2 separate regions of the Homo sapiens genome follow, and region 2 is linked to region 1. Evidence: fine-mapped expression QTL. A gene starts in region 1. The other region holds a variant in brackets. All regions are shown on one strand. Distances are between the middles of the regions. Region 1 holds the start of PIGO (phosphatidylinositol glycan anchor biosynthesis class O). Region 2 overlaps PHF24 (PHD finger protein 24).

The links.
Region 2: its variant is fine-mapped to the expression of PIGO in lung (TOPMed, PIP 0.98).

What each region holds. Positions count from the first base shown.
Region 1 is chr9:35,094,009-35,099,378 of GRCh38, forward strand. It overlaps PIGO (phosphatidylinositol glycan anchor biosynthesis class O), which reads right to left and starts at 2,583. Exons shown (of 11, transcript NM_032634.4): 1 at 2,147-2,583; 2 at 1,047-1,558; 3 at 208-351; 4 at 1-16. The coding sequence starts at 1,557. PIGO-AS1 (PIGO antisense RNA 1) reads left to right here and starts at 2,296. Exons shown (of 2, transcript NR_186491.1): 1 at 2,296-2,412; 2 at 3,752-4,136. RefSeq lists an enhancer at 2,250-2,589.
Region 2 is chr9:34,974,444-34,979,813 of GRCh38, forward strand. PHF24 (PHD finger protein 24) reads left to right here. Exons shown (of 8, transcript NM_015297.3): 4 at 1,709-1,787; 5 at 2,092-2,297; 6 at 2,640-2,800; 7 at 3,103-3,198; 8 at 3,572-5,370. The coding sequence ends at 3,668. Among named protein-coding and RNA genes, the nearest start is that of DNAJB5-DT, 12 kb to the right of the region's middle. The variant C/T (reference allele first, on the strand shown) is at 3,319.

The DNA of each region.
Region 1 (5,370 bases):
CATTCACCACTGTCCACTGTGAAGGGGAGAACACTGAGCACAGAAGACTAAGACCCACTCCTCAACCCCAGCCAGGCTTTGACACTCCTCTATGTCCAGGGATACAAGCCCAGGCTGTTACACCCATAGGTGGCTCAGAATTTGTGGACTAAAGCAGTTCTCCCCAGCTCCCAGTCTTAGAACTAAGTGCTCTGGCCCCATGCTCACTGGTGGGGTAGAGGTGTTCCAGGATGCCATTGTCCACTGTGTCTAGGTCTCTGACATTGAAGGATGGGAAGAAGAAAGCTTTGGAGAAAGCACCAGGGAAAAGGTCTTTCCAGGTATCATCTCCCATGAAGACTACACGCCTTCCTGCAGGGACATGAAAGAGAAGTCAGAGCCTGAGCAAACGTCAGGGTTAGGAGAAAAGAGGAAAAGAGGCCCTTTAAAGACCCATCAGAAGTCCCAACCATGCAACCTAAAGTACAGCAATTCCATACAGCAATCCTTATCCTTCAGGGCCTAACATTTTCCACCAGGAAGCTTTCCCTGATAACCGTACTCCACCCAGACCTCACACTTATCCTTCCTACAAAATGCTCTCCTAGTTCTGTCTCTGGGTATCTCTACTGAGTTGTTTTTCCTGGGTGTATCCTGCTTCTTCCCAGTCAGTGAATGAACAGGGCCTGTATTTCTCTGCTTTCTTCTCCACACTTGCAAGCCAAGATCCACATCTTCTCTTCTTCCCTTCTCCCTTTTACTGAGAGGTCTCCAAGAATAAAACTTACACTCCATTCAGATTAGAAGCTTCATAGGAACAAAGCCCAGATCCCTTCTCCTCTGTCTCCCAAACTGAGCTCCCTACCAGCAGGGCCCTGGCCTCTTTCTTCTCCTCTGTCCCCCAAACTGAGCTCCCTACCAGCAGGGCCCTGGCCTCTTTCTTCTCCTCTGTCCCCCTACACCATAATCAAGTGTGCATCTGGGCACCCAAAGGTCTGACTCCCTGACTTCAAATTTTGAAGAAATTTGCCAAGGTACTTCTGGCCTTCAAAGTGGCCCACACTGACCTGCACTGGTGAGCTGCTTAATGAGATTGTCTTCCACTATGGCGTGGCTGGCGAAGTTACTACCAGCATCAATAAAGGTAGGCAGTGAGCCAGTGGTGAGGGCCTTGAGGCGCTGCATGGTGGTGGTAGGAGGGTCAACCTGAGATCGGTAGAGCCGGGCATGGTGGGGCTGAATCTCCAGGATCCTCTGCAAGGAGCTTAGTTTGCCCAGGAAGGGTAGGGAGACAGGAGGCTCTCTAGGCACGTGTGAATGCTGGGGCTGGGCGAAGTCAAATCGCAGAGCATCTATCAGCACCAACACAACCCGCGAAAATCGGGAAGCCATCCAGCAGGCCCCAGGTTTCCCTTGGCTCCCCCATGGCAGGGACCCAGGGCCTGGGGGCTCTTGGCAGCTGCTATGGTTGGTGAGCTCCAAACGGGTGAGCAGGAAGCCACTGGTGAAGAGGGCAATGCCAGCGTAGAAGAGGAAGCAGACCCAGGCCAGGAAGAGCAACACTGAGGCTTTCTGCATCCTGATAGGGGTGGGGAAGTAAATTCATTACTGTGGGGCAAAGAACCAGTGGATATTCTGGTCCCTGAATACAAGCCCAGCTAGAATCACTTCCTCCCGGAAACCTTCCTGGAGATAAACCATTTCACAGCCAACCCCTCGCAATATTACTCTCCTCCTATTTCCAGGCTGGGCATGGTGGCTCACGCCTGTAATCCCAGCACTTTGGGAGGCCGAGGCGGGCGGATCACCTGAGGTGAGGAGTTCGAGACCAGCCTGGCCAAAATGGCGAAACCCCGTCCCTACTAAAAATACAAAAATGGGTGGCGGGCACCTGTAGTCTCAGCTACTGGGGAGGCTGACGCAGGAGAATCGCTTGAATCGGGGAGGCGGAGGTTGCAGTGAGCCGAGATTGAACCACTGCACTAGAGTCTGGACAACAGAGGGAGACGCCGTTTCATGAGGTCCCACCCCAGATCTACTGAATCAGGATCTTCGAGGGGTAGAGCATAGGAACGTTCACATGTACAGGCAGGAAATGCTAATGCTGCCTGTACATGTGAACAGTCAGGAGGGAAACTTATTCCAATTGGTAGTCAGGCTCTCTTACACGCCGTTTCTGCGCCTCTCCCCTCGCCAATCTCAATACCCAGTGGAAAGGGATCGAAGCCGCAGGGGAATCCGGGCCCAGCCGACGGCGCCGCCTGGCGGGCACCGAGGGGACGAAGGGGAGGAGTCACTCTCCGCTTCCGGGCGGCCAGGTTCGCCAGGAGACCTGAGGCACGACCTTCGCCACGCAAGGAGGCTGGGGCCCGGGTCGAGAGTCGACTGGGCCTCCGCTGGGACCCAGGCGTGCGACCGGCTCTGCCTCCTCCGGTAACTACCCAGCCTCCCGCTGGGCACCCTAGCCGCGGTACTGAGCACCTTGGTTAGGAGCTGAGGGGAAGAGGGAGACTCCCTTACTTCAGGGTGAGGGGAATACCGGGGGGTGAGGTTCTCGGGAGACCCTGGCTCACCTGCAATGGCACCCGGAAGTGCGGCGGCGGCGGCGCCTGCGACCTGGCAGCACAGAGATGCGTGCGCCAGACAGAGTGGCCCGTCGGTGGCTCCATCGCCATCTGCCGGCACCTCGGTGGAAGTTTGGCCAGGAGCGTGGGGCTGGCCCCAGTTTGATGGGATATTTAGTAATTGAAAATTGGGGACAGGGGACCAAGCTGGAGGAAGAGTTCAGGGAACCACTGTCCATTCATGGTTACGACTAAGAGCACGGCTGCTGGAGTCAAACTTGACTTGAATCCTAGCTTGGCCGCACATATTGTCATCATTAGGCATTACCTCATCTGTAAAATGGAGATAATACTTATTTTCCCTTTTTTGCTTAGCTGAGTCCAACTGAGATTTCATTACTCCTCCTTTCAAAGCCTGTAACTAAATCTTACGACTGAATAATTAAGCAAATAATCCTTCGGAGTGGAGGAGGGGAGGCTGGGCCCAGTGGTTCACACCTGTAATCCCAGCACTTTGGGAGGTCAAGGCAGGTGGATCACCTAAGGTCAGGAGTTCAAGACCAGCCCGGCCAATATGACGAAACGCCGTCTCTACTGAAAATACAAAAGTTACCCGGGAGTGGTGGCGGGCGCCTGTGATCCCAGATACCTGGGAGGCTGAGGCAGGAGAATCACTCGAACCCAGGAGGCAGAGGTTGCAGTGAGCCGAGATTGCACCACTGCACTCCAGCCTGGGCAACAGAGCAAGACTCCCTCTCAAAAAAAAAAAAAAAAATGCCAGGCACGATGACTCACACCTGTAAGCCCAGCACTTTGGGAGGCTGAGGCTGGAGAATCAGTTGAAGTCAGGAATTGGAGACCAGCCTGGCCAACATGCTGAAACCCCAACTCTACTAAAAATTACAAAATTTAGCCAGGCGTGGCGATGTGTACCTGTAGTCCCAGCTACTGAGGAGGCTGAGACTGGACAATTGCTTGAAGCCAGGAGGCAGAGGCTACAGTGAGCTGAGATCGTGCTACTGCACTCCAGCCTAGGCAACAGAGCAAGACTCTGTCTCAAAAAGAAACAAAACCCGTCCACTGGTTTCTCATCTCAGAGTAAAAGTTCTTGCATTGGCTCTACATGGCCCTGCACACTATCTGCCTCTTCCCCTTCTGATTCATCTAGCTGCCACTTCTTTGCTTCCCTAACTCTGTTCCATCCACAGCAGTTCTGCCTCAGGACCTTTGCATTTGCCATCTCCTCTGTCAGCTTCAGTTCCCGATGCCGAAATGGATCTCCATCACCTTCATATTGAAGCTCAACTGTAACATCAGCAAGGCTTCCTGCAATCCCCTACTTTACTAGTTCAGCACCTCCCACCACCACACCCCCTGGAAAAATTTCCCCTCACTTCCTTAATTTCTTCCATAGCACAACTCATCAGCATCTGAAATTCTACACGTATTTATGGTTTATCCCCTCCGAGTAGAATGTGAGCTCATTGAGGTCAGGGAATTCTGTTTTCTTCATGATATCCTCAGCACCTAGCATATATTTGAGGTTCACATACTGACCAAACGAATAAAGGAATATGTTAATTTTTAAAAAAAGTTGAGTTATTCTTCCACCTTCATCCCCATAGCCCCTTATCTCAGTTCAGACCTCATCCCTTCTCCAGGATCACTGAGGCAGCCTTCTCACTGTCCTCCCAGCCTCCTGTGTCTCCCTACTATCCCTTCTCCACATTGCAGCAAGACAGCTCTAACTAAAACATTAATGTGATTACTGTTATTTTTTTCTTTTTTGTAGAGATAGGGTCTTACCATGTTGCCCAGGCTGGTCAACTCCTGGGCTCAAGTGATCCTCCCACCTCAGCCTCCCAAAGTGCTGGGATCACAGGTATGAGTCACTGTGCCTGGCCAATGTGATGTTTTATCTTAAAATTCTTCATGGGAAGGGAAAAAAACCCTTCATAGGCCGGGCACAGTGGCTCACGCCTGTAATCCCAGCACTTTGGGAGGCTCAGGCGGGCAGATCACGAGGTCTGGAGTTCGAGATCAGCCTGACCAACATGGTGAAACCCTGTCTCTACAAAAAACAAAAAAATTAGCCAGGTATGGTGGCGCATGCCTGTAATCCCAGCTACTAAGGAGGCTGAGGCAGGAGAATTGCTTGAACCCGGGAGGCGGAGGTTGCAGTGAGCCGAGATCATGCCATTGCACTCCAGCCTGGACAACAGAGGGAGACGCTGTCTCAAACAAACAAACAAAAAAACCCTATTACCCTAGGGATAATGTCCAACCCCTTCAACAAGAATCTCATTCCTTGTGACTTGGCCCTTGCCATGTAGTCACATCCCCCTTAACACTATACCCTTCAGCCAACTTCTCTCAAGCAGTGAGCCTTTGTTTATTCTAGTCCAGGACCTGACTTGGTGAAAACTTGCTAACTTTTCCAGCCTGAGTTCAGTGGCAATCAGCAACGCTGCTACTCATAAGCTGATATGCTCTTCCCACCAAGATCCCTCAGCCAGAACTTTCCTCTACCACAGCATTTATCACTTTTTTTTTTTTTTTTAACAGAGTGTCTCACTGTTGCCAGGCTGGAGTGCAATGGCGTGATCACGGCTCACTGCAGCCTCCACCTCCCAGGTTCATGCAATTCTCCTGCCTCAGCCTCCCAAGCAACTGGGACTACCCGCACATGCTACCACGCCCAGCTAGTTTTTGTATTTTTAGTAGACGGGGTTTCACCATATTGGCCAGGATGGTCTCAATCTCCTGACCTCATGATCTGCACACCTCAGCCTCCCAAAGTGCTGGGATTACGGGTGTTGAGCCACCA
Region 2 (5,370 bases), 120 kb before region 1:
GAAAGTCAATAAAATCCCACCTCAGTGGTGTAACCACCGTTAACATTACCTCCCACATTCTGCAGCTGTCTTTGCTTGGTATCCAGTACCTTCTTCTCTACTGATGCTCTTCCAGCCTTAGTCTCTGACCATTCTTTCTCAATGCCCTTTGTTAGTTTCTTGTCTCAGTCCTGTTTCTCAGGGTTCTGTTGTTTAATACTCTTCTTTTCTCACTGCGCCCTCTTTGGTGACTTCATCTACAGCCACCATCTAAACACTAATGACTCCTATTTCTGTGTGTCCAGACCTAAATTTCCTGTCTCTTGCACTTATCCACCTTGATATCTCACAAGTACTTCACACTCATCATGCCCCAAAATGAACTCATCTTTGCCCCCAAACCTGCTCTTCCTCCACTCCTTATCTCTGTGAATAGTAATACCATGCCCCAGTTACCAATTCCAGTTCAATCTCTCCCTCATGCCTCACATCCAGTGAGTCATCAGGTCCTGATGATGCTGCCTCTAATATCTCTCTTCCCTTCTTCATTCTCATGTCTCAGTTTAGCTGCTCATCATTTCTTGCCTGGACTGTTGCGGCAGCCCCCAACTGCTCTCCACACCTCCAGACTCTGCCGCTCTAATCCATCTTCCACACAGCAGCCAGAGATCTGACCACGGCACTCCCCACTTGAAAACCCTTTGGTGGCTCCCTTTTGCCCTCAGAATAAAGGCCTAATTTGAGGGGCTCGATAAAGGGTATTGGAGGTACTTCATAGTAGGCCCCCTCCTTCCCTCACACACACACTCACATGTACTCCAAACCTCAGCCACACTGAACATCTCACAGTGTTACACACCACTGTGGCGCCCAGTGTTTACTAGGTGCTCAGTAGGTGTTTATTGAAAGTATGGTTTGAAAGAAAAATACAACTATTATATATTAGTTTTTAAAAAGTGTTATGGAAGAAAAAGAATGGTTTGAGTTCTTTATGAAATCCACGTATGAATACTCATGAAATATCTGCTCTTGTACTTTGCGGGTATCTCAGAGGAAGAAAATGACCTTGTACTAGAAAGGATCTTTGATAGTTTAAAGACTGTATGGTAACGTCAACACAATAAGATATTGGTGCTCCTTTGGAATTAAAACTTCTGTGGCACTACAAAAAAACTCATTTGGCTTTAGGAGCCTTGTAATAATGGCATCTTTTAAAACCATTCTGGGGTTATTTAAAGTGATACAACCCACTTGGAGCAGAGCTAGGATTAAACTTTTTTTTTTTTTAACTAAAATACATTTTTAGCACAGCCTAACACAGAAGCCAAGTAGATAAAAGGGATGGAGATGGAGCCGCTCTGCTTGATGGAGATAGGGATTCACAACCTGCCTACTCACTAGCCCCCTTATTCCCTGCAGCAGCTTCCTAAGGCACTTCCAAGAAATCCCTAGGTTAGCTCAGAGGAGAAAACCACTGTTTTAGTAAAGGGACTCAGTGCTGGAGTCAGGATATCTGGGTTCTTGGGGAAGATTCTGCCCCAGAGTAAAGACAACTCTGGCCAAGTCCTTTCTCCTCTCTGGGGCCTCAATCTCATTGATTGTGAATAGGAGGCTGGGATTAGATGATCTTGGAACTGCTTTCCAGTTGAAATTCTATTTCTAGCCCCCTTGACCCTGGCCTTTCTTACTGGCCTGTATGGCCACCGACTCAGCTCTTCCTTATTTTCAGGACAACATCAACTTGCTGCTTACTGAGGAGGAAATGTATAGCCTCACGGAGACCTTTCAGCGGTGTAAAGTCATCCCTGGTAAGGTTGGGTGGTGCTGCATGGATGGAGAGGGGCCGGGCAGATTTCTCCTTCAGGCTTTCTAGAATGAACCATGAAAGGAGTGTTCCATATTTAGTGGGTAGAGGGTAAATGAGTCCTTGTTCCTGAGTTGTTGGCCAGCAGAGTCACCTATCCCTGTCACAGCCTGGGTGACCCTGGCCATGGGAGGCAGAGACTTAGCAAGAGCTGTGGGTTTGGGGGCCCCGAGGGTGCCCTGGAGGTGATGGAGGTGCCCTGAGGCTGAGGAAGGATGGGCATGGCTAGCACGGGGTGCCTCCCACAGATTGCTCCCTGACACTGGAGGACTTTCTGCGTTACCGCCACCAAGCAGCCAAGCGGGGGGACCGTGACAGGGCCCTGAGTGAGGAGCAAGAAGAGCAGGCGGCCCGCCAGTTTGCTGCCCTGGACCCTGAACATCGAGGCCACATAGAGTGGCCTGACTTCTTGTCCCATGAGTCCCTCCTGCTTCTGCAGCAGTTGCGTCCCCAGGTGAGGGCCAGTTGGGGCAAATGTTCCTGGGATACTGGGTGACAAGGGCCTGGGAGGCACGCTGGGCAGATTGGGGGAGCACTGGGTCCTGCTCAAGCAGGGACAAGTATCAGGAATGGGCTCAGGTTCCATCCAGTGACAGATGATCTGGTGCCCAGGCTGAGGAAACTGCGTGAGGAAGACTGATCTGCCCTGGGCCGCACTGGAAGTGCTGATGCCTCCAGAAGGGCTCTGGGCAGCTTCTAAGGGAGGTTGCAAAGGTGGTAATGGAGATAGGATTCTCTATGGCTTGGCAGTTTACAAGATATCTTCACCTCTAAGATCTTGTCTCTTCTTCCCCAGAACTCTCTGTTGAGGCTTCTGACAGTGAAGGAGCGGGAGCGAGCCCGAGCCGCCTTCCTGGCTCGGGGCAGTGGGAGCACCGTCAGTGAGGCAGAGTGCCGCCGGGCCCAGCACTCTTGGTTTTGCAAACGGTTCCCAGAGGCTCCTTCCTGCAGTGTCAGGTCTGCTCCTTACCAGTCCTGGTCCCCACTCAGCCTCTCCTCCTCCCTTTTCCATGCCAGTGGCCCTTCCATACCTCCCTGCTCCCCCTGCCAACAGCCGAGAGAGGAGCCTCCTGTGCATTAGGTAGAGGATGGTGATGCCTACGGGCCAGGGCATAGGACAGCCTCTGCCTTCAACTCGGTGTTGCCACATGTCAGAAGAGCCTGGATGAGCATGTCCAGAGCCTTGGGCTTACCAGAGTTTGGGAGGGGGCAGGCATTTCACTATCCCACTCCTAACCACGTGTCCTCATGCCCAGCAGCATCAGCCATGTGGGTCCCATCGCAGATAGCAGCCCAGCCAGCAGCAGCAGCAAGAGTCAGGACAAGACCCTGCTGCCCACAGAGCAGGAGTCCAGGTGAGTAGGACCTCCTCACCTGGCCATTTGTACCCTCTGAACCCCCACAAAACACACAAGTAAGAGAGGGCATTACCCACTCCCACTCCAAAACAGCAAGCGCCCACCCAAGAAACCAGG[C/T]TCCAAGAGTGCACATTTGACCCAAGTCTATAGGACCAGCCAGCTGGTCTGTTGGCCTGGTAGCACAGCCAGCCATAGCCAGGTCAGGCATGAGCCAAGCTTCCCTGAGTTTTGTGTAGCTCAAGCCATGCTGCCCCTGGGATCAGGGCTCACGCGTCTTCAAACCAGCCTCCTCAAGCCATGCTGCCCCTGGGATCAGGGCTCACGTGTCTTCAAACCAGCCTCACGACTCTGTTCTTTGCTTCCACTCCAGATTTGTGGACTGGCCTACCTTCCTGCAAGAGAATGTCCTCTACATCCTGGCTGCTCGCCCCAACAGCGCAGCCATTCACCTGAAGCCCCCAGGATAGCATGGAGCAGAGAAGCTCGGTTTGAGGACAGTGACATCCTCTCCCTCCTTTCCTTTCTCCCTTCCCCCACCAACCTCTGGCACAGAGACTCATGGGGTTGGGACACTGCCAGCGTCTTAACTTGTCACTAAGCTTTAAGGCACTGAAATCACCATTCCCCTCACAATAGAGGCAGTGAATGCATTGCCACAAGGAGAAGCCCTGGGAGCTGTGGCAGCATCCTCTCCTGGACCGCCCCTGCCCCACATCATAGACGGGACCTGCCACCACACTTATATACATGTGCACATGCTGCCCAGCTGTCCATGCCTTCAGAAGCCTGGTTCTTTTTGGTTGAGAAAGGACCAAAGTCCCTTTGTGAAGCCCCTGGTATAGAGGAGGGGGTCTCTACTCACCCCTTCTATAGGCAGGCCAGTTCTAATTTCCAATAGATAAGTCTCTGGCCAAGTGATTCTTAGGAAGGGGGCATGTCAGACTCGCATGCCTGCCTAGAGCTCCTGGAGATCCTAATGGGCCCCGCTTTCTCCACCAAAAATCCCTTCTGCAGTCAGCTGCTGTTACTAGTAGGTGTGCATTATGTACCTCGGCTGTACTGAGTTGGGAAAAGAGTTAAACATCACCACTGAAATTCAGCCCTTTATTTATTTAAATTCCAATTCCTGGTGACAGAAAAGGCAACTAGCCTGGAGAATCCTGACTGGAAGAGGGGGAGGCAGCCCTTCCCAGGGACTCGGGATTCTAGGAACCTCTCAGTCAGGTCACCTGAGTCCAAAAGTCTTTAGCAGGGTAGTCAAAAATCAAGGTGAGCCTTCTTGGCCCCATTTTTCAGATGGTAGCTCATGGCCTAGGGCCAAGGGGGCCTGAATGGAGCAAACACACTGGCAGGAGCCACAGCCCTCTGTGTTAGATGCTTCACCCAAGTCACCGACCACAGAGACTGACGAGAGCACACTCTGGAGGAAGAGGAGAGAACGGGGCTCTGCTTCCTCATCATTCCAGCTCAACTCAACTGTAGACACCTTCCACAGCCCAAGAAAGATCTGCAGAGCCCTGAGCAGGGACTCTTTCAGCCATCCTGACAAACAGGATAAGAGGCTGGGGCTTAAGAAGAGGCTCTGCAGAGAAGGTCCTGGGAAAGCCTTACAGAAGAAGTTTTCCGCTTCTCCCTATCACTGAGACTCGGCTTGAGTGGCTGCTTCTCCTCACTGCTCATCACATGTCCTTCCCCAGCAGGCTAGGGCTTGGGCCTGGCATGGAAGGCCTTTTGGGGCAATCAGAGGCTGCCACAAGAGCACCAAGCCTGGCCTCCAAGCCCCAGCCCTCCTTCCTAAGTACTCATCAAATTCAAATTCTTCAGTCCGTGTGTTATGGCTCATCTTGGCCGGCCGTGGGGTCCATGTTCTAGGCTTCTGTTTCCAACTTAATGACTTAGGCATAGCGAGATCTGACTACCAAGAGTTATTCAAAAGGGAGTGGAGTGCAGTCATGCAGAAGCAAACACGTCTTCATTGCTCGAGGCCCTTGTGCTAAATCGGGTGCGTACAGAAGAACACACACCGCTCGGTGCTGAATGTTTCGAGGAAAGCAAGGAGCTGCGGCCAGGGGCTTCTTGAGAGCCCTGTGTAGTCTCCTCCTGTAGGAACCACCTTAGCTGGAAGCAGGGTGGTGAGCTGCTGGGGTTGGATTATTTGGGACTGAAATG